Homo sapiens: one gene and its partners. The protein of the gene in region 6 interacts with the protein of the main gene of each other region in a pairwise test. Each region holds a gene or a part of one and is shown on either strand. Other genes may lie near its edges. The genes, in order: RPRD1A, BANP, ZNF212, GCSAML, MAD1L1, FAM90A1 and SPRED1.

Region 1 (4,379 bases), on a different chromosome or scaffold from region 6:
TAGTGTTTGGTTGTTCCAAATGTAACATTCTTATCACTTTTCTATTCAAGCTCTTGTCCATAGTGGCCAATGGGCTTCAGCATTCCTATCACTGAACAAACAGGTAGGCTGACTCAGGTCGTGGCCTTGGTCTGATTCCTTCTGCTTCTCCAGTACTGAGACTAATATAAATCCACAGTTACAGGTAGTAATTGATTGTATTTTTCTTTCACCTTCATGGGGGAAAGAGCTCCTCCCAGCCTCTGATTTTATTCAGTGAATTTGGAACCAGTCCTCTAACTCCCACGGAGCACTGTGAGTTCCTGTTGCCCTTGTGAGTTCCTGTGACCTTAAAGGATACTAATTTCTGGCAACCCCATGTCTGCTTCGGGACCAGGGCTCAGCAGGAGCCAGGTTTTGTCTCACCTATGAAGTTAGGTGTACAATTTCTAACCCATGAAAATACATTCGCCTTGTTTTAAGAGTATGGTTATGTCTTCATTTTCTCATTTTACACTTTATCTGTCCCGCCTACATGTTTGAAACATAGAAGGAGGAAGCTTAAAGACTCAATGCCCACTTAAAAAAAAAAAAAAAAAAAAGTCTTTCTGGAATTAATCTGATGGTTAAGGAATACCATACCATACCAACATGTAGGAGGACACAGAGTGTTAAGATAATAATTCTAACTTATTTTTCCACAGAATTACATAGTTCTATATAGTTACAAAGAAATGTATGAACACATATATATCACTCTAACACTACTTTTTTTTTTTTTGAGACGGAGTCTCGCTCTGTCACCCAGGATGGAGTGCAGTGGTGCTATCTCGGTTCACTGCAAGCTCCGCCTCCCAGGTTCACGCCATTCTCCTGCCTCAGCCTCCCGAGTAGCTGGGACTACAGGCGCCCGCCACCACGCCCAGCTAATTTTTTGTATTTTTTAGTAGAGACGGGGTTTCACCATATTAGCCAGGATGGTCTCGATCTCCTGACCTCATGATCCGACCACCTTGGCCTCCCAAAGTGCTGGGATTACAGGCGTGAGCCACTGCGCCCGGCCACTCTAACACTACTTTTTACATTTAAAAACAAAAATACTTAAAGGGGCAGTGATTATGTCCAAGAATGAAAATTTTAGTGTATTTAAATCATACATGAGCCGGGCACAGTGGCTCATGCCTATAATCCCAGCACTTTGGGAGGCCAAGGTGGGAGGATCACTTGAGGCCAGGAGTTCAAGACCAGCCTGGCCAACATGGTGAAACCCCATCTCTATTAAACACAAAAATTAGCTGGGCTTGGTGGCCCGTGCCTGTAGTCTCAGCTATTTGGAAGGCTAAGGCAGGAGAATCGCTTGAACCCAGGAGGCAGAGGTTGCAGTGAGCCAAGATAGTGCCACTGAACTCCAGCCCTGGGGACAGAGTGAAACTCCGTCTCAAAAAAAAAAAATCACATAACAAAATAGGCATGTTTTGTTTTATTTTAAAAAGTTTAAATAGCTAACATCTCACATCTAACCATATTTGGCAATTAAAAATCCTCTTTCTATACAAAACATGATTTCTATGCAAAATATACAATATACAACATACTACATTTAACATAAGCAATTTGTTAATGAGGAAGAGATATTCATGTGGCTTCTTTCTTGTACCTAAAAGTATAATAGAAATCAATTTACAGAAGTGAAACGAAATTAATAAAGCTTGGTGGCAACATGAAGTAAAAGTTTGTAACTCTTTTAACAGGGTAAAATTTCTACCTGTGGTGGTTCACTTGGAGATCCCAGAGAGGAACAGTTTTCATTTTCATCCACCTTTATCTGTTCATAAGTTCGCTTCCTAGGCTTCTTATCACCATCTGAAATGAAAGAACATTTAAGTATTAATGAAAGAATACATTTTAATGAAGAGATCAAGGTAAGAGATCAGGATTCTACACTTACACAGAGCTTGTTTAAGTTGTTCTAATACATCATTTTCATAAACAGACCTTTCTTCCCAAATAGATAACACTCTTCCAAGGTGCTTCTTACAACTTTCATCAGTTTCACTAAAAAAAAAAAAAAAGAAAAAAAGAAAAATGTTAACAGTAACAATGCATAGTGTTATTGAAAAGGTTAACGGTAACTTTAAATATAATCAGACATTCATTCCCTGGAAAAAACTGTCCAAATGTCTACTTAGCATCACTATGTGGCCAGCAGCTCAAAAGTGAAGTGATCTAGACACACTGCTTGCTTCTAGTAAACATTTTATAAACATATTATTACACAACCAAAAAAAGTTTAAACTGTAAAAGTTTTAGTACTGGCTGCTAGGGATTTCCTATCCTAATGGGGCCTGGACATGGGGCTAAGGAAGATTTCTCATAGGTTATTTTTTTAAATTTATTCAACAAATACTTATTGATCCAGTTACTATCTTTGACATGGAGATGCAAATGCAGCTTATGGCAGTTGTTATTTATAAGTATCACAAAAGAGAACAAAGTGCTTAAGACAGACCTGGCCCTGTTTAAGAGATATCCGGAAGAGTATTTAAGGAAATGATATTTAATTTGAGATCTTAAGACTAGACATATGGGGAAATGAAAAACAGACTACTCCCAACTGTTTCCTACCTCCTTCATTGCTATCACTGTAGACAGAAACACTACTATCTCTTGCTTAGAATTTTGTAAAGTCTTCTCACGCTCTCCCAGCCTCTACTCTTTTACTCTATTCTGTACAAAGCATCCTAATAATGTAAATCAGATTATACAGCTCTTGATCCTCCAAGAGCTACCAATCACATCAAGAATAAAACCAAAATCCTTACTCTGGGCCATAAGGCCCACATGCTCTGCTTTCTGGCAGTCCCTCAGTACACACTCCCTAATACCTAGTACCATACAAATCTCCTTGCTAAGGTCCTCAAACATGTCCAGCATATAAGCTATCTCATTTTTTCGGCCACATATTCTCTCTACCTAGAATCCTTTCTGCCTAGTCAAATGGCTCATTTCACCCCTTCCTTTAGTCTTTGTTCAAATGCCACCTTCCCCAAATAGTTGTTCTTTATCTCATCACATAACTGAGCGCCCTCATACTATCTAGTTCCTTCCCTGCTTTGTATTTCTTGCTAGCATTTGTCATCTGACATTATGCATTCACTTGTCTATCTACTTATTAACTTTGTCATCCAATGAAATGTAGGCTCCAGTAGAACAAAACTGTCTTGGTCACTACTACTCAGGGTTTTGCATATAATAAATATTTATGCAGCCAATAAATATTTTACTGAATTCTAGGGAGGGGCAACATATATAGAAGACTTAAGGCGGAAAGAACTAAAAAAGGTTAATTTAGCTTAAACTGTAGACTATAGACTGTGTGGAATAAATGCGAGACAGAGGTCTGGGGAGATAGGCAGTGCCACGAAGGAACACCTTAAGTCTTGCTCAGGACTTTAGACTTCATCTCTAAAACAAATGGGAACCACTCAAAGGCAAGGAAGTATTATGACCAGCTCTGCAACTCTGTCGAGTTTTCTAAAGAAATTAAACAATACTAAAGGGCATTAAAATTATACTGAAAATACATTATGGTAACTAAAAGGGAAAGAAATCCAAAGAACCGAGTCAATGTGTACTATGTGAGATATGGGGACTGAAGGAGAAAGAAGAGTTTAAAGGTAACATAATTTCTTGCATAGGCACCTGGATAGATCGAGTTGCCATTCACAGAGTATAAAACCTACAGGAGGGACAAGTACGGTGGGAAGCAAGGACATAATGAGTTCTGTATCAGACACAGTGAGTCTGAAATGTTTGAGACGCATACAAGTAAAAATGTCAAAAGGCAATTGGGCACACAGGTTTGGAACAAAAAAAAATCTGGACTGGAGCATAAAACTGTAAGTCATTACGGTGTGGAGAATAACCAAATACATGCGATGTACAAAATTACCCAGAGGGCAAGTAAAGAATGGAAACAGGCCAGACATGGTGGCTCACGTTTGTAATCCCAGCACTTTGGGAGGCCGAGGCAGGTGGATCACGAGGTCAGGAGTTCAAGACCAGCCTGGCCAAGATGGTGAAACCTTGTCTCTACTAAAAACACAAAAATTAGCCAGGCATGGTGGCAGGCACCTGTAATTCCAGCTACTTGCGAGGCTGAAGTAGGAGAATCGCTTGAACCCAAGCGGCAGAGGTTGCAGTGAGCCAAGATCGCACCACTGTACTCCAGCCTGGGTGAGAGTGAGACTCTGTCTCAAAAAAAAAAAAAAAAAAAAAAAAAAGAATAGAAACAGTACTAAGTGTATATGGAAATATTTGTTACAAGACTGATAGCTTTATAAACACACAAATTTTTACTTCAATACCTTCATTCATTTTTAATGAAGTTCATTCCAATA
Region 2 (4,379 bases), on a different chromosome or scaffold from region 6:
TTCCGGAATGTTTGTTCTTGATTATCTGTTTACAATTCAAAAAGATAACTAAATCCTGAATAGTGCAATATAGTCTGTGGTCACTTCTTTAAATTAAGCTTTTGGTTCACAGTAGTCCCCCTCATCCATGAGGGTTTCAAGAAGCACCCCCTACCCCCACCACGTGGACGCCAGAAACTGTGGATGGTGCTGAACCCCATATATGCTATGCTTTTTCCCGCCCATATGTGCCACACAGCTTGGACATGCTGGACAAAGGAACGACTCACGTCCCGGGCTGGACAGAGCAGGACGACCAGACTTCATCATGCTACTACTCAGAAGAGTATGTAATCTGAAACTTACAAATTGTTTATTTCTGGAGTTTCTCATCTAATATTTTCAGATCACAGTTGACTATGGGTAATTAAAGCCTGGGAAAGTGGAAGCATGGGTAAGGGGGGGCTGCTGTGTAACACAGAACATTTTCCAGCACTTCACAAAGGAGCAATAGGTCCCAGGAAAGATATTTACATCTTTAAATGTTACTAAACAAGTAAATTTTAAAATGTGCATGACACACAGAAAAGAGGGGAAATAGAAAATCACAATGACACCTCTTTTCAAATGATACGTTCAGCTCTCTGGGGATACTGGGAGGCTACGCAGTGTGTGGCTGAAGCAGGGGAGCTGTTGGCGTGCCTACACTCACAACAGGGCAGGCAACGTTTTTCAAATCAAAGAAACACTCATATGACTATTTAGACAGTTTCAGTAAACACTAATAAATGTGATTCAAAAAAAATCAAAGAATCCACTGTTTATACATATGGGCAGACAAATAATTCCTATAAACCTGTAAATGAAACGAATACTCCTTATCTTATTTGAAATTCTCTCTTAGTCGAAATGGATCTTAAAATAAACTCCTGTAGAATGTTCTATGTAAGCCTTATGACAAAGTTATCTACTCTGGAACGCTTTCAAAGAACTTCTTACTAACAAGATGAGAGGAACTGCCGTTGTGAATGTCAAACAAATTAATAAGCTTATTAAATAAGATTCACTATTCATAACTGTCTCATCTCCTTTGGAAGAGGAAGGGTAACGCCCCCTCTAAAAGCCCCAGAATTTTCCGGAAGCCTTCCCTCTTCCAGACAGCATGCTGAAGCCACACTGAGATGAGAGCCACGCCCCACTCTCAATAGTGGAGGACCATGTTTCCAGGAGAAAGCCCTGGTGACACGGAGGCACACGATGACCTGTCTTCAGAGGGCCCAAGGGGGCTGGTGCCACTAAAAACATAGGCGAGGTCTAGTGGTGCATGTAAAATTTCTAGTCACTCAGCAAAGCTTCCAGAAAAGTCTTCCTTCCTTCTCAGCCACGCCCTACTCTCATGCCACAGAATCCAGGAGGTGTTTGTAGAGGGACTTCACCCGGGAGCAAGCCCCTAGGCGCATCAGGCTGACCACAGCTTGGGTCACAAAACCCCAATAGAGAACTCCGCACGGGCAAGGCAGGACATTGACTTGCTGCTGGGACAGTGCCCGCCCAACCTGGGTGTGCTGAGTAACTCCAAGGGACACGCTGCATGGGAACAATGACCTCAAGCTTTTGCCACTGATCCTAGAAGGAAATTACTCTTTCCCTCAGTAAGAGAGCGCCTGCACTTCTGAACTGAGAAATATTTCCGATGTTTCCCAGGAGCACGAGCTGGGGCAGGGACCACCGCACGGCCTGACCCTTGGAGCTGACTGCCCGCCTGCCTGCTGGCAGGACTGAGGTGAGCTGACTGAATGCCCCACCCCACCATGTGCTTCAATCCCTAGGCTCTGCAGCAGCCGCCCCCACCTGTGAAATGTTAAGAGCTCATGGCCACGATGACCTCTACTTTAAATGGGGACCTTGTGCCTCCTCCCAAGCTATCACTGTGCTCCCAAAACACAGCGGAACCGGTGGAAGCCGCCATGGCCCTGCCGTGGCCCACCCCGCAGCCCCCTTTCCCAAGGTGTGAGGTGGAGAGGGTACGTACTACTTGCACCTGTCCGTCTTCTCCGATCTGGTGGATCTGCACCTGCTGTGCGTTGGCCAGCGCGTAGTGCAGGGCCTGCGGCTGCGGCTGTGGCTGCGGGAGCTCGCTGGCAGGAGGTGGGGTGCTCATCATCGGCTCTGTGGGGGCAACAGGTGTGAACGGGGTGAACGAGAAGTTTCTTAGGCATTGCCTGGTGTGGCATGTGTGCACCCCCGTCCCCCACTGTCGACTCCCACAGCAGAGAAGAGGAAATGCTTCATTTTTCCTCGACTCACTGCATCTCCACTCTTCTGCAGAGATCACTACCAGTGAGTCTTAGGAACTGAGGCTTCCGACATGGAATGCAAAAGGGCCTGAGAGTGGCGTGATGCTGCTATGACAAAACCCCTTCTAGTCCCCAACTTATTTAAATGAATGAAGTTCTTAAAGTGGACATTAAAAGCTGTTTCAGGCTGGCAATATTTGTCCATGGGTAATTAAACTAATAGAGCAAAAGTCTCATCCGCACACTTAAAGATACATTTCCAACAAATTTTACTTGCTGTGTTTAATCAAAATGAGATACATTTGCTTTGATGTACTGTGTATTAATTTTCACTGTAATGATGTCTCAATCATAATTTTCTTAAACTCTCAGAATATTAAGAGCGCAGAAAAACTTTTTAATTTTCAATGTATACACGTAGTTTTGTTGCAGAGAATTATAATGACTAATTTTAAAAAGCTTTTAAGCATAAAAATGTAGTCCGGACACGGTGGCTCACACCTGTAATCCCAGCACTCTGTGAGGCCAAGGCAGGTAGATCACCTGAGGTCACGAGTTCAAGACCAGCCTGGCCAACATGGTGAAACCCCATCTCTACTAAAAATACAAAAATTAGACAGGCGTGGTGGTGGGGGTCTGTAATCCCAGGCACTCAGGAGGCTGAGGCAGGAGAATCACTTGAACCTGGGAGGCGGAGGTTGTAATGAGTCGAAATGGCACCACTACACTCCAGCCTGGGCAACAGAGCGAGACTCCATCTCGGGGGTACAGGGGAGGGAAGCAGTAAGATGAAATTCTGTGAGAGAAGTAGAATGTTGATATGAATGAAAGGAGAAAAATGAAAGACATAAAATTATTGATTATTAAAGAGAAGCGGGCCAGGCGCGGTGGCTCACGCCTGTAATCCCAGCACTTTGGGAGGCCAAGGCGGGCAAGATCACTTCAGGTCAGGAGTTCGAGACCAGCCTGACCAACATGGTGAACCCCGTCTCTACTAAAAATACAAAAATTAGCCAGGTGTGGTGGCACGCGTCTGTAGTCCCAACTACTTGGGAGGCTGAAGTAGGAGAACCACTTGAACCTGGGAGTAGGTGGTTACAGTGAGCTGAGATGGCACCATGGCACTCAGCTCCAGGCAACAGAGCGAGCGGGGGAAGGGACGGGGAGGGGCAAGAGAGGGGAGGGCAAGAGCGGGGGAGGGGAGAGAAAAGCTTTCCATGTATTTTTTACCAATAGCTAATGGTAGGTATTAAATTGCCATAGTACCTAGATTCCACTGAATACATTTTTTAAAGTAACAATAAAATGTTGGGTTTCTTTTTTTTTTTTTTTGAGAGAGAGTCTTGCTCTGTCACCCAGGCTGGAGTGTAGTGGTATGACCTTGGCTCACTGCAACTTCCGCCTCCCAAGTTCAAGCGATTCTCCTGCCTCAGCCTTCCAAGTAGCTGGGATTACAGGCACCCACCATCATGCTGGGCTAATTTTTTTTTGTATTTTTTTGTAGAGAAGGGATTTCACCAGGTTGGCCAGGCTGGTTTTGAACTCCTGACCTCAAATGATCCGCCTGCCTCAGCCTCCCAAAATGCTGGGATTATAGGTGTAAGCCACTGTGCCCAGTCACATTAACAGAATGTTGATACTTGCAATATGCTAGAAATTGCCTAGCTACACTAAATCAGAATCTGAAATTCATGAGATTCAAAGGAGATTCAACAAGCCCACCTGCATGCTGCATGTGGAGAGCTCGGCTCCAGCCAAAGACCCTGACTCCACCTGAGCACCTCCAGTGATGGGTCATGTCCCAAAGCAACCACCGCCAGGCAGTGCTGCGTGCTCCACGGCGGCTTCCTGTCTGCCTGAGCAGTTACGGAGCACTCACCACCACAGGTCCTCGAGCAAGCCTTGTGCACCCCAGGAAGAAAATGACAAAATCCCAGCTGGGCTGAAGCCCACCTCCGCGGAGCTGCTGTTCCTCCACTGACCCTCTTAGCACCTACAAAACCAGCCTAATTCTTTACTTATGCGCTACTTCTCCAGGCATCTAAGCATTATCAAACCTTGTGAAATCTCCATTTCTAACCGTTTCCCCAAAGACAACGGTTT
Region 3 (4,379 bases), on a different chromosome or scaffold from region 6:
CAAGGGCTAGGGATAGGAGAAAAATATTGATTATAGGCCAGGCACAGTGGCTCACACCTATAACCCCAGCACTTTGGGAGGCCGAGGAGGGCGGATTGATCATGAGGTCAGGAGATCAAGACCATCCTGGCTAACATGGTGAAACCCCATCTCTACTAAAAATACAAAAACAAAATTAGCCAGGTGTGGTGGCAGGTGCCTGTAGTCCCAGCTACTTGGGAGGTTGAGGCGAGAGAATGGTGTGAACCCAGCAGGCGGAGCCTGCAGTGAGCTGAGATCACGTCACTGCACTCCAGCCTGGGCAACAGAATAAGACTCCGTCTCAAAAAAAAAAAAAAAGACTGATTATAAAGGGATATGAGGGAACTTTCTTGGATGATGGAAATATTCTCTATCTTGGTAATATGCTGGCTACACATTTGTCAAAATTTGTTGAACTATCTGCCTAAAGAGTAAATTTTACTGTATGTAAATGGTATCTCAATAAACACGTCTTAGAATGTCAAAGTAGGAGAAAATGCTAGCTGTAATAAAAGATAACATAAACAAAGTCTAAAAACAAGGAGAGAATATTTGTAAACAGAATATGAAGTGGAAAAAGGTCAAGAACCCCAAAATAAAACTGCAGATTGTAAATCATTCATGGAAGCGGAAATGCAGGCAGTCAATAAACAAATGAAAACACAACCACCTTACAATCAGGAATCCAAATATAACTAAGTGAAAGCACGTTCACCCATCAGACTGACAAACATGAAACAGACACAAAGAATAACATTCAGAGCTGACTATAATGTGGTAAACTGACTCTCATAACACTCCTGGAAGGAATGAAAAATACTACACACTCTTAGGGGAAGAAAAATTTCAAGTCATTAAAAACCCTTTTACCTAGCAATCCCACTTGGGGAATCTATGGCTGGGCACAGTGGCTCGAGTCTGTAATCCCAGCACTTCGGGAGGCTTGAGGCGGGAGGACAGCTTGAGCCCAGGAGTTCAAGAACAGCCAGGGCAAGATGGTGAAATCCCATCTCTACAAAAAGACAATAAAATTAGCCAGGCATGATGACAGGTGCCTATAGTTCCAGCCACTCAGGAAGCTGAGGTGGGAAGATCACTTGAGCCCAGGGGATTGAGGCTGCAGGAAGCCATGATCACACCACTTCCCTCCAGTGACAGAGAGAGATTCTGTCTCAAATAAATAAAGACACGGTCTCACTCTGTCACCCAGGCTGGAGGGCAGTGGCACGATTATACGTCCTGGTATTACAGGCATGAGTCACCCCACCCAACAGAAAAGTGACACATTTAGGATGAATTTCAATTCATAAACATAGTATGCAAATCCTTTTTTTTTTTTTTTTTCTGAGATGGAGTCTCTCGCTCTGTCGCCCAGGCTGCAGGCTGGAGTGCAGTGGCATGATCTCAGCTTACTGCAACCTCTGTCTCAGGTTCAAGTGATTCTCCTGCCTCAGCCTCCCAAGTAGCTGGGATTACAGGTGTGTGCCACCACTCCTGGTTAATTTTTCTGTATTTTTAGTAGGGACAGGGTTTCACCATGTTGCCCAGGCGGGTCTCAAACTCCTGACCTCAAATGATCCACCTGCCTCAGCCTCCCAAAGTGCTAGGATTATAGGCATGAGCCACCATGCCCAGCCTTTTGAGACTCCATTTTTAATATCTTTCAATGTTTTAACATTTTCCCTAGGTATCTATTCCAACCATCAACTCCTGTATGACAAATAATCCCCAAATTTAGTGGCTTAAGACATCATCATCTACTTTGCATGTGAATCTGCAGTTAAAGGAGGGTGGCACATGGATGGTTCGTCTCTGCTCCACTCTCTGTCAAGTGGGGCAAATCACAGGCAGCCAGGTGCTAGAATCCCTTGAGAAATCCCAAGCCACATGAAGAGGGTGCATGAAGTGTTCTGTTCAACGGCCTTACCTACAATCTCAGTCTACACACCAGCATCAACCAATAGACATGGGAATGCACACATTTTCATTCCCAATAGGTTTTTATTTTTGCCTCCTCTCTTTTGTTTTCATTTTGTCTCTACACTTTGATATTATATACTGATAGATATATGGATTAAAAAAATCATTTCTGGCCAGGTGCAGTGGCTCACGCCCATAATTCCAGCCCTTTGGGAGGCCAAGGTGGGCGGATCATGAGGTCAGGAGATCGCGACCATCCTGGCTAACATGGTGAAACCCCATCTCTACTAAAAATACAAAAGAATTAGCCGGGCGTGGTGACGGGCTCCTGCAGTCCCAGCCACTGGGGAGGCTGAGGCAGGAGAATGGCATGAACCCGGGAGGCGGAGCTTGCAGTGAGCCGAGATCGCACCACTGCACTCCAGTCTGGGCAACAGAGAGAGACTCTGTCTCAGAAAAAAAATAAAAATAAAAATAAAAATAATCATTTCTGTACCTGTGCTTCCAATATAATATCCACTAGTCACATGTGGCTGGTTAAATAAAATTAGCCGGGCACAGTGGCTCGTGCCTGTAACCCCAACCCTTTGGGAGGCCAAGACAGCCGGATCACTTGAGGTCAGGAGTTCAAGACCAGCCTGACCAACATGATGAAACCCTGTCTCTACTAAAAATACAAAATTAGCCGGGTGTGGTGGCACATGACTGTAATCCCAGATACTCAGGAGGCTGAGGCAGAAGAATCACTTGAAACTGGGAGGCAGAGGTTGCAAGGTTGCAGTGAGCCAAGATTGCACCACTCTACTCCAGCCTGGGTGACAGAGTGAGAGTCTGTCTCAAAATAAATAAATAAAATTTAAAACTCAGTTCCTCAATCATACTAGCTAACATTTCAAGTGCTCAAAAGCCACATGTGCCTAGTGGCCACTGTATTAAACAGTGCAGAGCAGAACATTTCTATCATCTTGGGAAGTTCTACTGGATGCACTACACCCTTATAAGTCTTTTCTATTTGATAAAATACTAAGGTTGTATTAAAATCTCCTATTATAACAGTGAATCTTTCTCGCAATTCTGTCAGTTTTGTTTTATATATTTTTAGGCTATGTAATTAGGTGCATACAGGTTTAGAAATTTTGTATCTAGCTGGTAAATTGAGTCTTTTACCATTACAAAAGTAGTAGGAGCCTTCTATCTCTAAAGATACTAAATATATTTGTCAACTTTATTTTCATTAGTATTTGCTTGGCATATTTTTTCATGACCTTTTATATTCAACTGTTTCTATATCCTTATCTTTTAGTTGTATCTCTCTCTCTCTCTCTTTTTTTTTTTTTTTTTTTTTTTTTTGAGACGGAGTCTCACTCTGTCACCCAGGCTGGAGTGCAGTGGCGCAATCTTGGCTCACTGCAACCTTTGCCTCCCAGGTTCAAGTGATTTTCCTGCCTCAGCAACCTCCGCCTCCTGGGTTCACGCCAGTCTCCTGCCTCAGCCTCCCAAGAAGCTGGGACTACAGGCACCCACCATCACATCTGGCTAATTTTTTGTATTTCTAGTAGAGACGGAATTTCACTGTGTTAGCCAGGATGGTCTCAATTTCCTGACCTCATGATCCACCCAACTTTGCCTCCCAAAGTGCTGGGATTACAGGCGTGAGCCACCACGCCCAGCCGGTTGTAACTCTTTTAAACCATCTAGTTGGATTTTTCCCCCATCCTGACAATCTATGCCTTTTAACTTGAACATTTCATTCATTTACATTTATTGTAATTGTTCATTAGCTTTGATTTATTTTTACCTTTTTTGTGCTATTTATCCCATCTTTCTTCTCTACTTTCTTGTCTTCTTTTACATTAATTTTTTCTTATTCCATTATCCCCCTTTCTGATCTGTAAGTTATACGACCAATTTCGAGTTGTTTAGCAAGTATCCTAGAAATTATGGGAAACATACATAGAAGGCCCTTTAACAAAGCCCTTTAAACACTTTAGTTCTGATCATCTCTTCCTCATATTTACATCAATGCCATCATGTATTTTAATTGTTTTTAACACAACAAGAAATTGTTACGTTTTATTAAGTCACTATTTGTTTAGATTTAACCATTTCCATGCATCATCACATCTTCTCATATTTTCAGACTTTCTATTTGGGAAAATTTTCATTTTACCTGAGGTATATCTTTTAGAATTTCCTTTTCTAAGAGTGTATTGGTAGCAAACTGTCATTTTTAATTTGTCTAAAAATGTCTTCTTTACATCTTTGTTTCTGAAACATTTTTGCTGCATATAAAACTATGGGACCACAGTTACTTTCTTTCAGCCTATTGACAATATCATTCTACTTTTGCCTAGCTTCCATGGTTGCTGTTGAGAAGCTGGCCCCCATTCATTTTGCTGTACTTCATTTCAAGGTAGTCTTTTTTTTTTTTGGTTGCT
Region 4 (4,379 bases), on a different chromosome or scaffold from region 6:
AGCTGACTTTTTCATATTACTCTTGGTGTTTTGCCATCAATTATCATCATCTTTATGATAATCAGGCAAACACTAAATGACGAAGTTAGAGAAATCAGGTGATTTGCGTGGTTAACACAATAGTTAGCAGCTTATGTTTGTGACTTGGTTAATCAAACTTTCTACTCCACCAGTTGTCCACACATAGCATTTCCTTGATGGTTTTCTTTTCCTCTATTGTCACTTCTGCAGCACTGGTCTATCCTTCTGCTTCTAGGTAGCTTTGCATATAAGAGCCTCACTTCTGCTTACCAGCAGTATTCGGGGAAAGCATTTCGAACCAACGCTGAGAAAGTGCCTTCCCTGAATAGAGGTCATATGTATATGTTCAAGAAACATTGCTAGATATCAACACACAAAGCCACTAAGCAAAGAATATATTTGTTAAATATAAAGGAATATCAATTTACAGAGGTGGGGGCTTTTTATAGAATCAGTTGCTGATGTAGAGATTTTGTATAATAGTCACGATCACAGTCAAATCTGGATGTAATGTTTATTTAATAGTGTAGATTGTAAATCAGGTAAAAAGTAATTTAACTGTCTCCTTTTTTCCCCTTTTCCTGGAGTCTAGTTTTCTCACGATTCCATCTTCCTAAACTGGTCAATAAAGAAAGAATTTGGTAAAATAATTGTCCTTGGGGTTATTAGTGATTCATTGACTTACACATCTAAAGGATGTTTGTATTTTAAAGTTGAAAACAAGACAGGAAAAGTATTTAACATCAGTAGGGACCTAATTGGAATTCCACACCATTAATATTACTGAATATAACTGGATACTAAATTCTACTGTGAATAAAGTAAAAAGTGTTTTTCTTAATCCAGAGGAATTCAGATAATATCAGGCCATAGGTGATGTACAAAAATTTGTTGACCAAATTAATAAATCAACTAATACTCTATTGTTTTCAAAAATAGGTATTTTATTAAGCTTTAGATGTATCTTGGCCAAAGAATTAAGATTATGAATAATTTTTTATACCTTCTGTGTTTTTTCTTCTTATTTTTAAACTTTCTAAATGTTGGATGTTGACTTATGACTTCATAACTCTACAAAGAAAGTCTTAGTAAACATCCCCCAAAATCAACAATTTGCACATGATTTCTCCAACTATCAAGCAGTAAAATTAAAACCCAATAAGCTATAACCAAAAGTGTACCTGTCTAGGCACAAGTAATATTCTAAATAATCCTTATGTTAAAGAGGGAATCATAAAGGAACTTTCTAAAAACACAGAATAAAATAATAATGCAAGCTACACAAGACTATTTGAAGGATAAAGTGAAGTGTGAAGAAAATAGCTTGCTAAAATACATTCATAAGAAAACATAAATGACTAATAATGACAAAGTAAGCATTTATCTTAAGAAGTTGGGAGAAGAAAAAGGAAACAAGAAAGTTGTGGGTAAAAATAAATATGATAGGGAACCAAATCTTAGAAAAGAATAATATCAGTAAGATAGCAAAAGTCTGGAAAGACCAACTAAAGAAATAAGGAATGGAGACAAAAATATAATGAAAACAGAAAGTTCAAAATAAGTATTACAGACATAAAACAGGCATGATGAAGAATTATGTATAATAAACATTATGGCTTAAAATGAATAATATCTTGGAAAAAATGAAATATAAAAACTGACACATGAATAACATCAATAACAAAAAAATCCAGCTTACACAGCTGCGTACACAATTTACCAAACTTCAAGTGACAAATATACTCTCTCATATATAAGATGTTCCAGAAAGTAGAGAAATGTAAAATGATGCCAACCCATTTAATGAGATTGGTAAACTTTCATTTCAAATTAAATAAATCAAATTTTTAAAAATCACAGGTCCAACTCGATCATGAAAATAGATGCAATAATCCTCAATAAAATATAAGTTAACTAAATCTAAAACTATAGTAAAATTGCACACATCACAATCAAATGGGTTTTATCCCAGAAATTAAAAGATAGGTAATTAGCAAAAATATTTATTAACATAATTAACTACTTTAGAAGCCTAAGAGAAGAATCATGAGGTTATCTCAATAGTTTAAAACTGCATTTGATAATGTTTGGTCCTTATTAACAATAAAAACCCTCAGAAGAGCTGGGTGCAGTGGTGCAGGCCTGTAATCCCAGCTCCTTGGGAGGCTGAGGCAGGAAGATCACTTGAGGCCAGGAGTTCAAAGCTGTAGTGCACTCTGATTGCATCTGTGAATAGCCACTGCACTCCAGACCGGGCAACATAGTGAAATCTCATCTCTACATATTTTTTTAAAAAGTAGAATCTCCTTATTTTGATAGAGGCAATATGCCAAAAACATAAATGCCAAATATAAATGTCAAAAATATACAGCAACCTTGATGAAAACAATTTAGAAAAAAATTATTATGATCAGTTACAAGAAAATGATGCCTAAGAATTCTGACATAACTATGCTATAAAACATGATAAAGGTACCTATAAGACTTGTAAGGAACAAAAAAAGAATAGAAAAATCTTTAACTTTATAGATGATATATTAACTATGTAAACCCAGTAGGATTAAAAAACCATGAAAAAAAATGAGAAATTCAACAAGGCTAGTGGATACAAAGTCATCTTGCAAAATTCAATAGCATTCCAACAATAACAGGCTAGGAAAAAATGTCATTCATAGATTTATTACTGTTGCATATGGTATCTAGAAATCTATCTAACAAAGAATAAAATAAAAACAAAAAATTAAAGCTCTATCAGAATGCATTAAAGAAGATTTGAATAAAGATAATTATAAATAATTGTTTTGATTGGTGTATTAATAGTATATCTGCATAGACCAGGCGCAGTGGCTCACGCCTGTAATCCCAGCACTTTAGGAGGCCGAGGCAGGTAGATCACAAGGTCAGGAGTTCAAGACCAGCCTGGCCAATATGGTGAAACCCCGTCTCCACTAAAAATACAAAACTTAGACGGGCATGGTGGTGCGTGCCTGTAGTCCCAGCTACTCGGTAGGCTGAGGCAGAAGAATCGCTTGAACCTGGAAGGTGGAGGTTGCAGTGAGCCGAGATCATGCCACTGCCCTCCAGCCTGGGTGACAGAGCAAGACTCCATCTCAAAATATATATACATATAGTACATCTGCATAAACATAGAAGAATTTGCAAATAGATCTCTATATTCACAATGTTGTCTGAATCCAAATTCAAGCTGGCACTTTTTATATAATACACAAATTCAGAATTTGTGTACAAATTTATATGGGAGGATAAAGTCTTCAAAGAACTAAATCAATTTTGAAATAAAGACTAAAGAGGGTATGTGATGGACACTGCCCATGGGCGATGTCTACATTTACTTCACCCTCTTGCTAGTCAGGGGCTAGAAAGCAGCAGCTACCTTCCCCAGACTCATCTGCAGCCAATTATCAGGCTGCAAATTAGGCACTGCCCAAGGTAACAGGCCTCTGACAAGCAGGGTCAGAGCAACAGGAGGCTCTCTGCATCCGTGTTCTAGAGGCCATTCTCCAGCCTTCTCTCACACCACATCTGTGATCCCAATGACTGACACACACCAAGGTGACTCCTTGGGAATGCATTTACTTTCACTGAATTTCCTCTTCATTTTGGTTGTTCCTGATGAATTTCAGCTCTTTACCATCTCTTTGTTGGGGCTCAGAAAATGATACTCCAAAATAAAAGCCTCAGAAGCAGCTCTCTTTCTCCTGCCCTCCTCTCTGTGACAACTCTTTCCTACCCAGGGCTAGCCATAGAAATTAGAATCCCTCTTCCCCAAGGTGATTGATAGAAACCAGAACCTCTTTTCCCCAAAGCCAGCCATAAAATTAGTAAGATGACTCTAACTTTCCCTGTATCTTTCTGTGTAAGAACCAGCCATAAAGACATTATCTGACCTACTTTGTCTGACTGTAGGTCATAAGCCCCCATTCCAGAGAGTGTTCTGCCCCATACTCATAAGTAAGGAATGCTGTACAGAGAGGTCGAGAAGAATCTAAACAGACAGAACAAGACTTGCTGGGATTTTCCACTCTGTCTATTAGCATTAGGTCATATCCTTTTTGTCCAATCATATTTCCACATGGCTATCCAAAATTTGTTGAACCTAAGCATAGAAATGGACAGTTTCCTTTGCATCTTTGGGTCTTCATTCTGAGGTTCCTGTGTCACATAAAACGATGATCAATAAATTTGCCTTTTGTCCTATTAATCTGCCTTTTCTCAGCTGATTTCAGAGAACCTTCAGGGAGCAAAGGGGAAGTTTTCCTTTTGCCCCTGCATCTTCTTTGGTATATTTTAAGAGCTTATTGTCTATTTCTCTCTGTGTCATTCCTCCATACTCACTG
Region 5 (4,379 bases), on a different chromosome or scaffold from region 6:
GCCTGGGTGACACAGCGAGACTCAATCTCAAAAAAAAAAAAATTAGCCAGGTGTACTGCACATGCTTGCAGACCCAGTTACTCGGGAGGCTAAGGCAGGAGGATCACTTGAGCCCAGGAGGTTGAGGCTACAGTGAGCCATGATTACACCATTGCACTCCAGGCTGGACGACAGAGTGAGACCCTGTCTCAAAAAATAAAGTAAAATCTGGCTCTGCAGGAGCCCTCTCTAAGAAGGAGGGGGAGGAAGTTGCTGCCCCCATTCTGCTCCAGGAACATCAGGACACTTTCTGGGCTCACGGTCCTGGCTCCAGAGGCCTCAGCATCTGCCCCTCTTGAGTGTCTGTGAATTAGGACAGCATCTGGGAGTGTATCCACATCCCACCCAGCCACCAGGAGAGAGGTGGGACGCATGCCCCCACACGTGACCCGACCCCCGACCCCACACCCTGGCCCCGCCCACTTGTGTTGCAGGTCCAGCTGCTCCTGCAGCTCCTGCTTCTCCGACTCCAGGCGCTTCACCCGCATCTCCTGGTCCATCACGCTCCACTGCAGTTCCGAGATCCTCCCCTTCAGTGCGTTGATGGTCTAAAAGTAGAGGGGACCAGAGAGCCGCTCAGTGAGTGGAGCCCGTGCGTGGAAGGAGCCTGCACATGGAGATGAGAAGAGTGGAGAGGCGACACCACCCACGTGCTATAATCAGGGCAGGAGGCAGAGGGGCAGAGGAATAAGGGGGCAGAGGGGCATCGGGCAGAGGGGTAGGGGGGCAGAGCGGTAGGGGGGCAGATGGCAAGGGGGCAAGGGGGGCAGAGGGCAGGGGGAAGAGGAGCAGGGGAGCAGAGGGCCAGGGGGCAGAGCCACCTCCTTCTGGAGGATGCAGGTCAGGCAGACGCTCACACGCAGGGCCCACCCTCCTCCTGGTGCTCCAGAGCAGCACAGCCCAGAGCCTGCCACAAGCCACCCAGGAGCTGACAGAGGAGACCGGGCCCCAGCCAGGGGCCCTGGAAAGGAGGCTTGGTGAGGCGGCTTCAGAAGCAAAAGCCTCCACCAGCCAAGATGGGCCCGGACTCTCAGGCCTGGCACCTGGCAGTCTCTGTGCCAGTGCCCCACGCTCCCAAAGTCCCATCAGACATCCACATACCCGCCACACCATCACTTCGGTCTTCCCTCCAACCGTGGCTCCTGTCATCCCTCCCTAGCCACCCCAATGCTACCATGACGGCTGTTTGCTAGCGACATCGCCCTCACACCACAGCAAGGCACTGGCCAACCAACAGGACAAAGACGGAGGCTGTGCAAGGGGCAGGGCGGTACCTGCTGGGGAGGCCGTGCGCTTGGAACGGGAGCACGCGGCACGGGCAGGAGCGCCCCTGGGGAGGCGGCCCCTGAGCAAAGCCAGCAGCCCCTCTGGCAGCCTCCAGGACAGCAGGTCTGCCTGACATCATGGAACCCGCACGCGACAGAACCGCCAGGCTTCCTCCTGACCACTCCCACCAGGCGACCTTCTGAGGACCCTAACCCTCTGGAAAAGCTCAGAAAACCCCAGGTGTCCTCAGAGAAAGAAAGAGCACGTGGGTCGAGCCAATGTGAAAAGCCGGACAGACCCTGAGAAGCATCACTGTAAGTTAACACACGGAAACACACGGGCGTGATGTCAGCCCTGGGGACCACGCACCCAGGACAGGACAATGGCAAACTCACACAGCAAACGACCTGGGTGGGCCTGGCTGGGCGGCACCCTCCGCAAACAAGGAGGCCTCAGCACTCATTTCCCTGTCCCTGAGAACGTGCCCAGCTTAGGGCCTGCTGAAGCCTATCACCGCTGTCCACCCCACGCCGCTCTGGGAAGGCCCGCATGGGGGCTGCGTGCTCCCCACATGCCCACAATATGTACGGTTTACTTCACCACAACAGTGAAGCATCAACCTGGGAGTCAACAAAGAAGAAAGGTATTAAAAACATACTAACAATAAACACATCCTCCCAGAGGTCTTCCGAACTCAATTAATACGCACCGTGTGCCAGGGGCAAGGCCAGATGCAGGGCCGAGCCCACCTGCCCACAGGGTCACCCGTGTTGTAGGGGACGCCGGACAGTTGGCAAGGAAGAGGCGCATAAGATAATTCCAGAGTAAGGAGCGTGACAATCAGGACCCTGTGACAGGAGAAGGCAGTCAAGGCCTAGTGCGCAGGGAGGGCTTCCCTGAGGAGCGGCCACCTCGGCTTAGACATGACAGGCCAAAGCAGCAGCACCTGCAGCGCCACCATCTTCCCCTCACTATGCCCCACCCCACCGGGCACCGCCCTGCGGCTCCTGCAGTCTCCTGCTCCTCTGCCCCTCATGAAGTGCTCGGCACGACTCACCCTCCCCCATGGAACCACAGGTGCCCGCAGGCAGCGGGGACAGCCCCCGGCCCAACTCCAGTACAGCCCAGCACATGGGAACTGGAACCCAGAGCATGGGCAAGGCAAGAGCAGCTTCTCGGGAGCCAATCACGCCTCCTCTCCTGCCAACGTTCCCTCCAGAAGCAGATAGGGGAACAGCCTGAACACGCCTCCCCAGCACGGCCACAGGAAGGACCCGCGGCCAGTTTCTGGACCCCTCCAGGACCCCCGCTGCACGCCCACCCCACCCCTACCACGCCTCCACCCCCACACCAGCAGATTTTCATGTTTCCTCTTGGCACCAGCGATCTTGATCGCCACAGACAAAGGACAGGAGAGGTCAGAAGATTCCAATTTCCACCAGTGCCCATGTCTGGGCTGTTTCTAAAATGCAAGCAACCTTCACCAGGACTGCAGTTCACACAGGCTCCAGTTCAGAGGCAATTATCCGACGCCATCAGATGCCTGTAGACCTTGCAGACAGTCAAAGATATGCAAATCCAGACGTGCCTCCTTAAGCCTCCTGACAAAACAACAGCTATTTCCAGAAAAGACCACCATCCACGACAGGGAAGGCTACGGGGAAATTGGAGCCCTCAGCCAGGCCTCTGAGCACAACGGCTGCAGAGACCGCCATCGCTAGGGACCTTATAACCCAGTCCTAGGGGTCTGTCCAAAGTCAACAGAAGCGAGGGCTGAGGGAAGGGCTACCTGTCGCATACATACATGAGCGAACACAAACACACTAAACGTCCACAAACAACAAAAAACAGATTCATCATCCATTTAAATTCATAATTACAAAGGCAAAAAAGTGCTTAACTTTTTTTTTTTTTTTTGAGACAGAGTCTTGCTGTGTTGCCCAGGCTGGAGTGCAATGGTGTGATCTGAGCTCACTGCAACCTCCACCTCCTGGGTTCAAGCGATTCTCCTGCCTCAGCCTCCCGAGTCCCACAGGCTGGGACTACAGGTGCGCACCACCACGCATGGCTAATTTTTGTATTTTTAGTAGAGATGGGGTTTCACCATGTTGGTCAGGCTGGTCTCCAACTCCCAACCTCAGATGATACACCCACCTCGGCCTCCCAAAGTGCTGGGATTACAGGCGTGAGCCACCGCGCCCGGCCCAAAGTCTCAACTTTTTAACTGAAAACTACAGAATGGAAAATTAATACTTCTACTGATGACAACTATGTACAAAACGCAGCTGCCCGTGTGGGAAGCACAAGTGAAAACACAAGCGGGCACTGCAGTGGCAAACAAGAGCATGCACTCCCTCTCCTCGGGAAAACAGCTCCCTGCGCAGCAGAGGCCCCGCTCACCTCGCCAGCCTGGGCCAGACTGTCCTCTTTCTCACGCAGCCTCTTGCTGGCAGCATCCAAGTTCTGCTGACACTGCCTGTTGCGCTCCAGCTGCTCCTGCATCTTCTCCTCCGCCCCGGCCTCCCGCTCCTGAAGCTGCCGGATGCGCGTCAGGAGCTCCTGGTTGCGGTCGACCTCACGCTGTTAAGAGAGCAAGAGTCAGATGCCACGTGCCGCCCACGGGAGGGTCAGCGGGGAGCCCTCACCCCCACACCTCTCTCAGAACATGCCGAGGCACAAAAAAGAGCCGAGCAGGACCCATGAGCCAAGTCATAGGCAGAACCAGGACGGGACCTGGGACCCAGCCCCAGCGTTGGCACCCCCGCTGTGGCACCATGACGGTGAGCACTGTGCGAGGTCAGGGCTCCCAGGAAGGGCACTTGGCACAGATCACACACACATTTATCACACCGTCTGCTCAGCAGTTGCCTCTGCAGGGAGAGGGGGCATGGGAAATCTAAAATTCAGCATTGACCTTGGGGAGAAGCTGAGCTTTCATAGCACCAGCAAATCCTGTCTAATTACGCTCTGTCCGGCACTGAAAGGAGCTGGCACTCCCCCAGCGAGCAGACAACAGGGGCAGAGACAGGCAGCGTGGACAGGAGGCTGTGGGCAGAAGCAGTTTACACTGGGCT
Region 6 (4,932 bases):
CGACGTGCCATCATCTTCGTCTCCTGGGGGTTTTATGACCGCCTTTTTCAGGGGTTGATTGTCGGGTCACCTGAAACACACACAAACACACACAAGTCGATGGTTAAGCACATTGGATATTCACACACCCACAGGAAGCCCCCCGCTAATTCCTTGCCGGTGTGGTCATGAGGAGACCTCACCACCAGTCGGTCAAATCTGTGGAACACAATGTGCTGTGTGCATCCTCAGATATTGTGTGTTCCTCTGCCATGATTACCTAGTCCAAGAGTAAACCTCGCCTGCCACAGGGCCCGTGGCCTAGGTATGGGGAGTTGAGCTTTCAACCCCAAACTAACAACTGATTCTGGAGACTGGACTTAGGTCTATCACGATTCACTCCGGTAGAAGACACGATGACTCTATCTCCCTTGACCGACAGAATGATCGAAGCCACAGGGCATGGCGTGTGTCACCCTTTGGCAGGTCTGTTTGAAATCTGGGATAAGGGATGCCTCCTGTCACAACTTGAATCGCTACTCTTGCCGTTTCATTAGGCAACTTCCAAACACAAATTCATAGAGAGAAGTTATCTTCCTCTCTACCACACTAGCAGGTGATGGTCTTTCCTGTTCTATCTTTTTGGCTTTAGCTCCAGCCCCTCTTTATTTATTTTTCTGGTATTTTACGCATGCCACACGAATTCATCTAAACGAACGGTGAACAAGTGCCATATCGTATCAATGTCTTACACGGCTGAAGGGCAAACCACCCTTTTTTCCAAAGTCCTTTTTCCATTTACCCACCAATTCAGCATGCTGCAGTACATTTCTTTTCGCATTCCCACCTTGGTCTTATCCCACACATGGAGACGGAAATGCTTTCTCGTTTTCTGTTCCAAGAATTACTAGTAACGAGAGCACACCCTACCGCATCAGCAAGCCCCAGTGTGATCGCTTTCTTTCGGCCTCCTTTGTCTCTTTTCCCCCCCACCCCTCAGGGATTGCGTGAAACAAACAACTGTTCAGTGAAACTAACCTGAAATTACACGTCTACTTTCTTTCCCCGGCTGGCGCTGAGATGGGCAGGTGCTGGAGCAGCCCCGCTGGAAGCGATGCAGCATCCAGGAAGACGGAGGAAGGGGCAGAGAGGGACCTCTGCTTTCCAGGCTGCCTTTTATACTGCCTCTGGTCACCTGACGTGGAACGTACCCTAACCTAATCAGTTACATGTAGGTTAATTACAATTAACTTAATCCAATTACATGACTCGGAAAGGTCTATCTGCACAGCCCACTCTAAGATCATGTCCACTGCTGACAGACATTCTAAAACCTACGTGTACAGCTGCAAGCTTTGAAGAATAGATGTTCCCCGTCAGATATGTAACACTGGTGCCTGTACCCCTGTCTTCTTTTCCATCTTTTTTGTTTTTGTGTTTTGTTTTGTTTTAAAAAATGTGGTAAAATAGACACCTTTTAATTGGACCATATTTACTCTATCTCGACGTAGGCCTCCGTGTCATCATGGAGATTCTCCTTGACATGCAGTCACGGCCATGATCCATCTTCAGAGCTTCTCTTTCTTCCCCACGGTAGGTCTGTCAGCAGAGAACCCTGACCACACACTCATGTGTTTTCTCCTCCAGAATGCGCTTGGAAACCACCGTGAATTGGAGCGCACTGGGAAACACAGATGAAGAAAGTCAACACCGCTTTGTCCTTCAGTGCCTGGCTCCCTTTTCAGCTGGTCTTGAGACTCCAGGCATTGGAGTCCAGGGAGGGGCACGCCGCCTTTACCTTGTGCTTCCCACGATCTTGTCTCCTTAATCCCCACTGCAGCTCTCTGCCATAGGGTCTTATACTGCTTTACATGTGGGAAACTGAAGCTCAGAGGGTTTCACAGCAGGGCAGGGAGCCCAGATGTGAATCTGTACATACCAAGCTTTCTAATTTTTCAGTAGTTTCCAAGCATCTTTTTTTTTTTCTTGTTTCTTCATTGATGTCTTTTTTTTTTTTTTTTTTTTTTTTTGAGACACAGTCTCTGTCGCCCAGGCTGGGGTGCAGTGGTGTGATCTCAGCTCACTGCAACCTCCGCGTCTCACAGTCAAGCAATTCTCATGCCTCAGCCTCCCGAGTAGCTGGGACTACAGGTGCCCACTACACCCAGCTTATTTTGGTATTTTTAGTAGAAACAGGGTTTCACCATGTTGGCCAGGCTGGTCTTGAACTCCTGACCTCAGGTGATCCACCTGCCTTGGCCTCCCAATATGCTGGAATTATTGATATGAGCCATTGTGCCCGGTCATGTCATTGTTGCCTTAACCAAGCCTCTTTTAATTTTTCAAACGGAAGAGCCCCTGTCCCTCAGTTACTGCTGCTGAGCCCTTTCAAGATGACTCAGTGAGGAGGGGGAAAAGCAGAAGCGGTGTGGGAAGAGGCGGGGTCTGGGCCAGCTGCTGGTCCTGCTCTCCTCCCTCCTTTGGCCTCTAGGCTCCCAGGAGTGGTTTGGAACCTGCGCCGTGTGCTCTGGGGGCTGTGGCAGGGCAGGGGCGGCTTGGAACCTGCGCCATGTGATCTGGGGGCTGTGTCAGGGCAGCGGGAGTCCTCGTGTCCCCTGCGCACAACACAGACAGAAGGCTGGGTCCACCCAGTGGGCGGTCGGGTGCCAGGCCAGTGCTTACCCCGCCATGTTTTCAAGCCCGAGGCCAGCTGGCTGCAGGTGCAGGGCTATGCGTCAGGGGTCAGGGTGCACACATCCCTGCAGGTCTCGGGGCTCCTGGGTTGCTTCTGGAAGGGCCCGGATGGGGCCTGACTGGAGCTGCCGAGGGGTGGAGCTTCTGGGAAAAGGATCCCTCCTAGGGGGAGTGTCTTGGGCCTGGGGCCACGTGGCACGGAGAGAGACGGGTCCATGGCAGTGTCTGCTTTTCTCTGTGAAGGCAAAGGGCCTCTGAGGGAGTATTACAGCCGCCTCATCCACCAGAAGCATTTCCAGCACATCCAGGTCTGCACCCCCTGGCTGGAGGGCCGAGGACTACCCCCGCTTCTAGGTGAGAGGCCAGCAGGAGGCTCAGGGAGGACGCGGGGCCTTAAGCAGGGGGAACAGGGGTGGGCAGGATGTACTTTTTTCAGAAAAGGTGGCTCTGGAGGCCACTTGGGGACAGGACCTGGGCTCTAGCTGAACTCCCGGGAGGAGGCTACTTCCTGGTGTGCCAGCCCCTCCCTGCCAGGTGGCCCCAGAGGCCCTTTACCAAGGGGTTTGAGGAGGCCACGTCCTTTCAGTCTGCCACGCCCTCCATTCAGTCCTCTTCCTTCCTGCAGGAGGGCTGGGCCTGGGGTTGGGGCCACTGTTGCCCAGGTGTGGGAGGGCAGTGGCTTTGGGAGGTACAGGGACGATGTGTCAAACAGCGTCGCCTCTCCCAGTGCGATGGTTCTCCTTTGCCTCCGTCTCTTTCCGCGTTGATTTCTCCAAGTGGGGAGTCGTGGCTTGGTCCTGATGCGTCTCTAGAGCCGCATCTTCCAGCTTCGAGTGAGCAGAGCAGTTGGAGTCTGAGGGCCTTTTCCTGGCAGGATTCTCCAGCTAGTCTTTGTTTTAGACAGTCTTGCTCCGTTGCCTAGGCTGGAGTGCACGATCTCAGTTCATGCAACCTCCGCCTCCTGGGTTCAAGCGATTCACCCACCTCAGCCTCCCAAGTAGATTACAGGATTACAGGAGCCCGCCACAACACCTGGCTTATTTTTGTATTTTTAGCAGAGACAGGGTTTCACCATGTTGGCCAGGCTGGTCTTGAACTCCTGACCTCAAGTGATCCTCTCGCCTTGGCCTCCCTAAGTGCTGAGATTCCAGGCCTGACCCATCATGCCTAGCCCCAGCTAGTCTTTAGAAATGTTAAGCTATTTGGCTTTATTTTCACACTGACAGCTGGTTTGTGGTGGGTGTGATGTGGTTTATTATTATTATTATTATTATTATTATTATTTTGAGACGGAGTTTCGCTCTTGTTATTATTATTATTATTATTATTATTATTATTATTATTATTATTTTGAGACGGAGTTTCGCTCTTGTAGCCCAGGCTGGAGTGCAATGGCGCGATCTTGGCTCACTGCAACCTCTGCCTTCCCGGGTTCAAGCGATTCTCCTGCCTCAGCCTCCTGAGTAGCTGGGATTACAGGCACCTGCCACGAATTAGCTTCGCTAATTTTGTATTTTTTTTTAGTAGAGATGGGGTTTCACCATGTTGGCCGGGCTGGTCTTGAACTCCTGACCTCAGGTGATCCACCCGCCTTGGCCTCCCAAAATGCTGGGATTACAGGCGGGAGGTGAACCTGGGAGGTGAAGGTTGCAGGGAGCTGAGATTGTGCCACTGCACTCCAGCCTGGGTGACAGAGTGACACTCTGTCTCAAAACAAAACAAAACAACAACAACAAAAAACAAATTGTGGCTATGTAGAAAAAGTGTCAACTTACATTTTCAGATGTCCCACCCAGGCCGTGTGGCTGCTTGGCCACCTTAAGCCACTTGTGCTTGGGGTTGTCGGGGACCTTATCCAATTTTCACTCCCCTCGGGGGAAGTTGTCTCACTGTGCTGGGAGGATTTGTGTTCCCAGGGCAGAGACCAGCGCTCTGACCCACCCCTCTTGCCTAGCAGGGTTAGTGGACCTGGGTGTCTCTCTGGACACATCCTCCAGTGGCCTGGACCTGCCCATGAAGGTGGTGGACATGTTCAGGTGCTGTTTGCCTGCGTGTGCCGTGAACTTCAAGTGGTAGGAGCAGAACCCCAATCTTTCTGGGGATAGCTTCACAGATCCACCACTGAGGGGGAAGCAGTGCAGAGTGAGCTGCCCACAGTGAGGCCCTGCCCCTCGGTCAGTCCAGCACACACTGGAGGCCACGAGGAGGAGCCCTGCGGTTGCTGTGGCTGGGCTGAGCCTCACTGAAGTAGTTGCTTCC
Region 7 (4,379 bases), on a different chromosome or scaffold from region 6:
GTTCTTTTTGTTTAGGAGCCCTTCCTTAGCTTACTTCTCTCATTTACTGTTTATCATAAGCAGTAAGAAGAAATCAGGCAAACAGCTTCAACCTTTTGCTTGAAAACTCCTTAGCTTAACCACTCAGTACATTAGGTACATTTTCTGCCTCCCACATTACTGCCATGACATTGTTGCTAAGCTTTCAGCCACTAAATAAACATTCCCTTTCTTCCATTTTCCAATATGGTTTTCTTCATTTTCATTTAAGCCCTCACTGACGCTCTATCCAAAGATCTTCAAGCTTCCAGTAAGTCTCTTCGGAACTTCACTAAAACTCGCCTCAAAGACCTTCCAGCTTTTATTTACTGTCTGAGTCCTGAGTCCAAAGTCATTCCCATGTTTTAGTATTTGTTACAGCAGCACTCCATTTTCAGGTCTTCAGAATCTGCATTAGTCAAAAATCATTCCCAAATTTAGTGGCTTAAAATAACAAACATTTATTATTTCACAATTCCTGTTGACCAGGAATTCAAGAGCAGCTTAACTAGATGGTTTTGGCTCAGGGTTCCTCATAAGGTTGCAATGAAAACATGCCACAACTGGTCATCTATTAAGGCTTGCTTGGAGCTGAATAACCTGCTTCCAAGGTGGTTCACTAATATGGCTATTGTCTGAACGCTTCAGTTCCTCACCACATGAATATCTACACAGTGTTGCTTGAATGTCCTTTTAATATGGCAGTTAGGCATCCTCCATAATGTGGGTGACCTCACGCAATTAGTTGAAAGGCATAAGAAAAAAGATTGAGGTCCTCTGAAGAAAATAGAATTCGGCCTTCTCATGACTGCAACATCAACTTGTGCCAATTTTCAGCGTGCCTGCCCATTCTGCCAACCCAGCCCACAATCTTATGAACCACTTCCTTAAAAAAGAAAAAAAAAACCCCAGAAACTTTACTTTCTATATAAAGATTGATATCTCTTATCTGAAATGCTTGGAACCAGAACTGTTTCAAATTTCAGAATATTTGTATGTGCATAATAAGACATCTTAAGGATAGTACCCAATTTAAAGATGAAATTTATGTTTATACACCTTATAACACACAGGCTGAAGGTAATTTTATACATGATTTTAAATAATTTCGTGCATGAAACAAAATTCTGACTGCATTTTTAGTGTGATTCATCACATGAGGTCAAGTGTAAATTTTTTCTACTTGAGGTGTCATGTCCATACTCAAAAAGTTTCGGATTTTGGGGCCAGGCACGGTGGCTCAGGCCTATGATCCCAGCACTGTGGGGAGGTGGGTGGGTTGCTTCAGCCCAGGAGTTCGAGACCAGCTTGAGCAACATAGCAAGACCTTGTCTCAAAAAGAAAAAAAGTTTCAGATTTTGGAACATTTCAGATTTTAAATTTTCAGATGAGGGATGCTCAACCTGTATTGGTTCTTTTCTTCTGGAGAAATCTGACAAATAGAGTGTCTTAGAAATATTCTTAGTAATTGATAAGTTTATTGAATAAGGCTAGTGATTTCTTCCACATCCTTTATGTTTACAAATTCCTTCCAAGCCATTACTTACTTGTAAGTCATCTGCCCCTTCAGCTTCATTTTTTGATTCGGGGCATCCTAAGAAAATAGATAAAAGTTAATTAAGTATAGAATTTTTGTCTTAGAGTCCAGTATTAATGACTAATTGATTATGTCATTATAATACTTTAGAAGACTAATCAGAGATCTTTCTGGACTGCCTGGCAATTAAGGTACTGGCCACTTGCATTTGCCCCTGTTAGAATAATGGAGAATAATGTAATTATTTCCCTCCTCTATAGGTAAATTTCCAGCTGCTTACTAACGAGATGTTTTCTCTGAAAGTATACTATCTCTAGCTACCCCTGCCCCTAGTTTCTCCCAAATACTCAAAATTACTAGGCAGATTATAATTACATTGCTCTGGTGATGCTAAGATGTGATTTATTCAATTTTTCTAAATGCTTTGACCCAGGAAACAGTATTTAGTACCCATAACCAGGATTTTAGTTGCTTTAGCTAAGATGGAAAACAAATGAGTTTTAATCCACTATTGACAGTTAATGGCCAATTGTTGTTACTGACTTTTTTGCATCAACGTCTCTGTACAGATTTTCATGCTGTTAAGAGTACCTTTAGTTTCAATAAATTAATAAGAAAGGATTTGTCCTAGCAAAGTACTCTTAGTTCATGCTACCCTTGAGAGGCACAGCTTAGCACGGAGTAGGCATGAGATAAGAAGAAATGCGCCCTTTGGAAAGAGCAGCATATTTTATCTTTTTGTCACAGAAGGTCGAGTAAAAGCAATTTGAGATTGTTGAAAGTCTATATAGCAGCTGATAATAATGCTAGCTAATGTTTTTTAATGTTCAAAAATAACAAGGCAGACTAAGTACTGTAGTCTACTCTACCTAGAAGTTTGTAAGCTACTCCTTATAAATCATTTTTTAAAACATTAAACCCAATCTGTTTGATCCTAGTGAAAGAGGTATACTGTTATGGTACATGAGCATAAACTTAAAAGTAATTCAAAACTTTAAATCATATAAATTCCAGCAGCCATGGATACTATTTTTCTCTCTCTTTAAAGCACTGGTTCTTCAAACCTGGCTAAAGGTTAGAATCAACTGAGGAATTGTCAAAAAATACACTGATGCCAGAGTATGGCGTCAAACCAAAATATATCAGAATCTCTGTGGAATGAGGCACAGAACATCATGTATTTTTTTTTTTAAGTTTCTTATTTTTTTTTCTTCAAATTCAAATTACAATTCCTTGACTAGAGAACAATTCTTCACCATATTTGAACTTTCTTGGAGTTTTTGAAAAATAAGGGATGACTCGACTCTATTCCCCAGATAGATTCAATTGGTCTGGAGTGCAGACTAGTCATTTTAAGCTTCAAAAGCTTCCCAGGTGATTTTAATGTGTAGCCAAGGTTAAGAACACTGATCTAAGGAGAATTTATGGGGTCTTACAATAAAGACAAAATGGCTACTATTACTTCATAGTAATTTTTTCTGGATCAGAATAAAAAATTACTCATTTACCAAATTCTAATCTTTTAAAGTAGCTAAATAAATTACTTAACTACAGTTTTATGCACTATCAAAACAGATTTGTACAATGTATTTCCATGTTCTTGCCTGTGACTGGTCTCACAGTTTATGTTTTCAGATTTTCTTATTAAAATGACATCTTCAAAATAACACAAATCACAACGTAGTCTAGCACACTTTCAGTTACTTTATATAGAAAGTTAGTTAAATTGAAATAATTTTCCTCCTAATTAGAAAAAAAAATCAAGTCTTAGTTCTTCCTTTATGGGAAGAAATGGGTTTTAATGTGATTTTTGTTTAAGTAAGCATAAGCCAGTCTTACATGAAAAAACATTATTCTTCCCTTCAAAACCTGTATGCTTTTGAGTTAATAATTTTAATAGACTGGCAAGATAACAAAGGAATAGATGAGCTTGTGGTCTCTGCCAATCCTCAATAATGAAATCAATCAAGTAAAGACTTTTGTCATGGAATAACTAGAGTCTACATACATTTGAATATTACAAGTTCTATATAATTACCCAAAAAAAGGATGTGACTGGTGTCATACATACACAAGTAGAATACCAACTGGGATTCTCGCAGCTGTACATTTCTATTCCCTCTTCCTTCAAGCTCTTATTTTAAAACATTTGAATTATCTGAAGTCAGCTGTTGATGGACTCTTCAAGATAATACATGCAATTGACATAGACTATGATGTGACAAATACAAATCACGTTAAGGAATCTATTATTTTATCTTCATCTATTGTGAGGTTTCAAAGCCTGGTCACATATCACAAAAGCTGACATGGTTAAAGTGTGAAAACTACTTTGGGTCAACTTTAAGAAAGATAACCTCTACTATATATAACCGATAAATAAATTAAGAAAATAGTCAAGAATACCTACCTTGAGAAATATCCTCTATAGCTCTTCGGATACCTCTATCAAAAGCCCTAGCATCAGCAGGACTTTGAAACGTAAGACCAAACTTCTTGTCATCAATCTTCCAGTGGTGAAATGTTGGAGTGACCTTATTATAAATGAGGTCTTTTTTAAGCATACATTCCAAAACCACCTGACAAAAGCCAAATACCAAAAATTAATATACATATATCAAATGCATCTAATGTAGCTCATAAATACAAACTGAGGTGATACAACGCTATTACTTTTTAATGAATAATTTTTAGTATTTTAAATAAAGTGGTCTACTTCACAAAGTCACTCAATAAAGAGATTAAGATGGAATAAAAAAATGCACATTATAAACAGGATGCTTATTATACTCCCATTTTAAGAATACACACATATATACACTCC

The links.
Region 1: the proteins of FAM90A1 (region 6) and RPRD1A interact in binary tests that used the Homo sapiens proteins (3 or more experiments, as listed by UniProt).
Region 2: the proteins of FAM90A1 (region 6) and BANP interact in binary tests that used the Homo sapiens proteins (3 or more experiments, as listed by UniProt).
Region 3: the proteins of FAM90A1 (region 6) and ZNF212 interact in binary tests that used the Homo sapiens proteins (3 or more experiments, as listed by UniProt).
Region 4: the proteins of FAM90A1 (region 6) and GCSAML interact in binary tests that used the Homo sapiens proteins (3 or more experiments, as listed by UniProt).
Region 5: the proteins of FAM90A1 (region 6) and MAD1L1 interact in binary tests that used the Homo sapiens proteins (3 or more experiments, as listed by UniProt).
Region 7: the proteins of FAM90A1 (region 6) and SPRED1 interact in binary tests that used the Homo sapiens proteins (3 or more experiments, as listed by UniProt).

The regions. Positions count from the first base shown.
Region 1 is NC_000018.10:36,029,064-36,033,442, forward strand, and holds part of RPRD1A (regulation of nuclear pre-mRNA domain-containing protein 1A), read right to left. Parts: intron 2,035-4,379; coding exon 1,928-2,034; intron 1,843-1,927; coding exon 1,745-1,842; intron 1-1,744. UniProt on the Homo sapiens protein: Interacts with phosphorylated C-terminal heptapeptide repeat domain (CTD) of the largest RNA polymerase II subunit POLR2A, and participates in dephosphorylation of the CTD by RPAP2.
Region 2 is NC_000016.10:88,030,878-88,035,256, reverse strand, and holds part of BANP (protein BANP), read right to left. Parts: intron 2,149-4,379; coding exon 2,012-2,148; intron 1-2,011. UniProt on the Homo sapiens protein: Controls V(D)J recombination during T-cell development by repressing T-cell receptor (TCR) beta enhancer function. Binds to scaffold/matrix attachment region beta (S/MARbeta), an ATC-rich DNA sequence located upstream of the TCR beta enhancer.
Region 3 is NC_000007.14:149,242,346-149,246,724, reverse strand, and holds part of ZNF212 (zinc finger protein 212), read right to left. Parts: intron 1-4,379.
Region 4 is NC_000001.11:247,551,528-247,555,906, reverse strand, and holds part of GCSAML (germinal center-associated signaling and motility-like protein), read right to left. Parts: intron 1-4,379.
Region 5 is NC_000007.14:2,218,870-2,223,248, forward strand, and holds part of MAD1L1 (mitotic spindle assembly checkpoint protein MAD1), read right to left. Parts: intron 3,886-4,379; coding exon 3,706-3,885; intron 2,154-3,705; coding exon of another isoform or gene 2,015-2,153; intron 588-2,014; coding exon 463-587; intron 1-462. UniProt on the Homo sapiens protein: Component of the spindle-assembly checkpoint that prevents the onset of anaphase until all chromosomes are properly aligned at the metaphase plate.
Region 6 is NC_000012.12:8,224,819-8,229,750, forward strand, and holds the start of FAM90A1 (protein FAM90A1), read right to left. Parts: upstream 2,801-4,932; 5' UTR 2,662-2,800; intron 1,661-2,661; 5' UTR 1,454-1,660; intron 1,197-1,453; exon of another isoform or gene 1,175-1,196; 5' UTR 1,018-1,174; intron 71-1,017; 5' UTR 15-70; coding exon 1-14.
Region 7 is NC_000015.10:38,321,996-38,326,374, reverse strand, and holds part of SPRED1 (sprouty-related, EVH1 domain-containing protein 1), read right to left. Parts: intron 4,135-4,379; coding exon 3,966-4,134; intron 1,613-3,965; coding exon 1,566-1,612; intron 1-1,565. UniProt on the Homo sapiens protein: Tyrosine kinase substrate that inhibits growth-factor-mediated activation of MAP kinase. Negatively regulates hematopoiesis of bone marrow.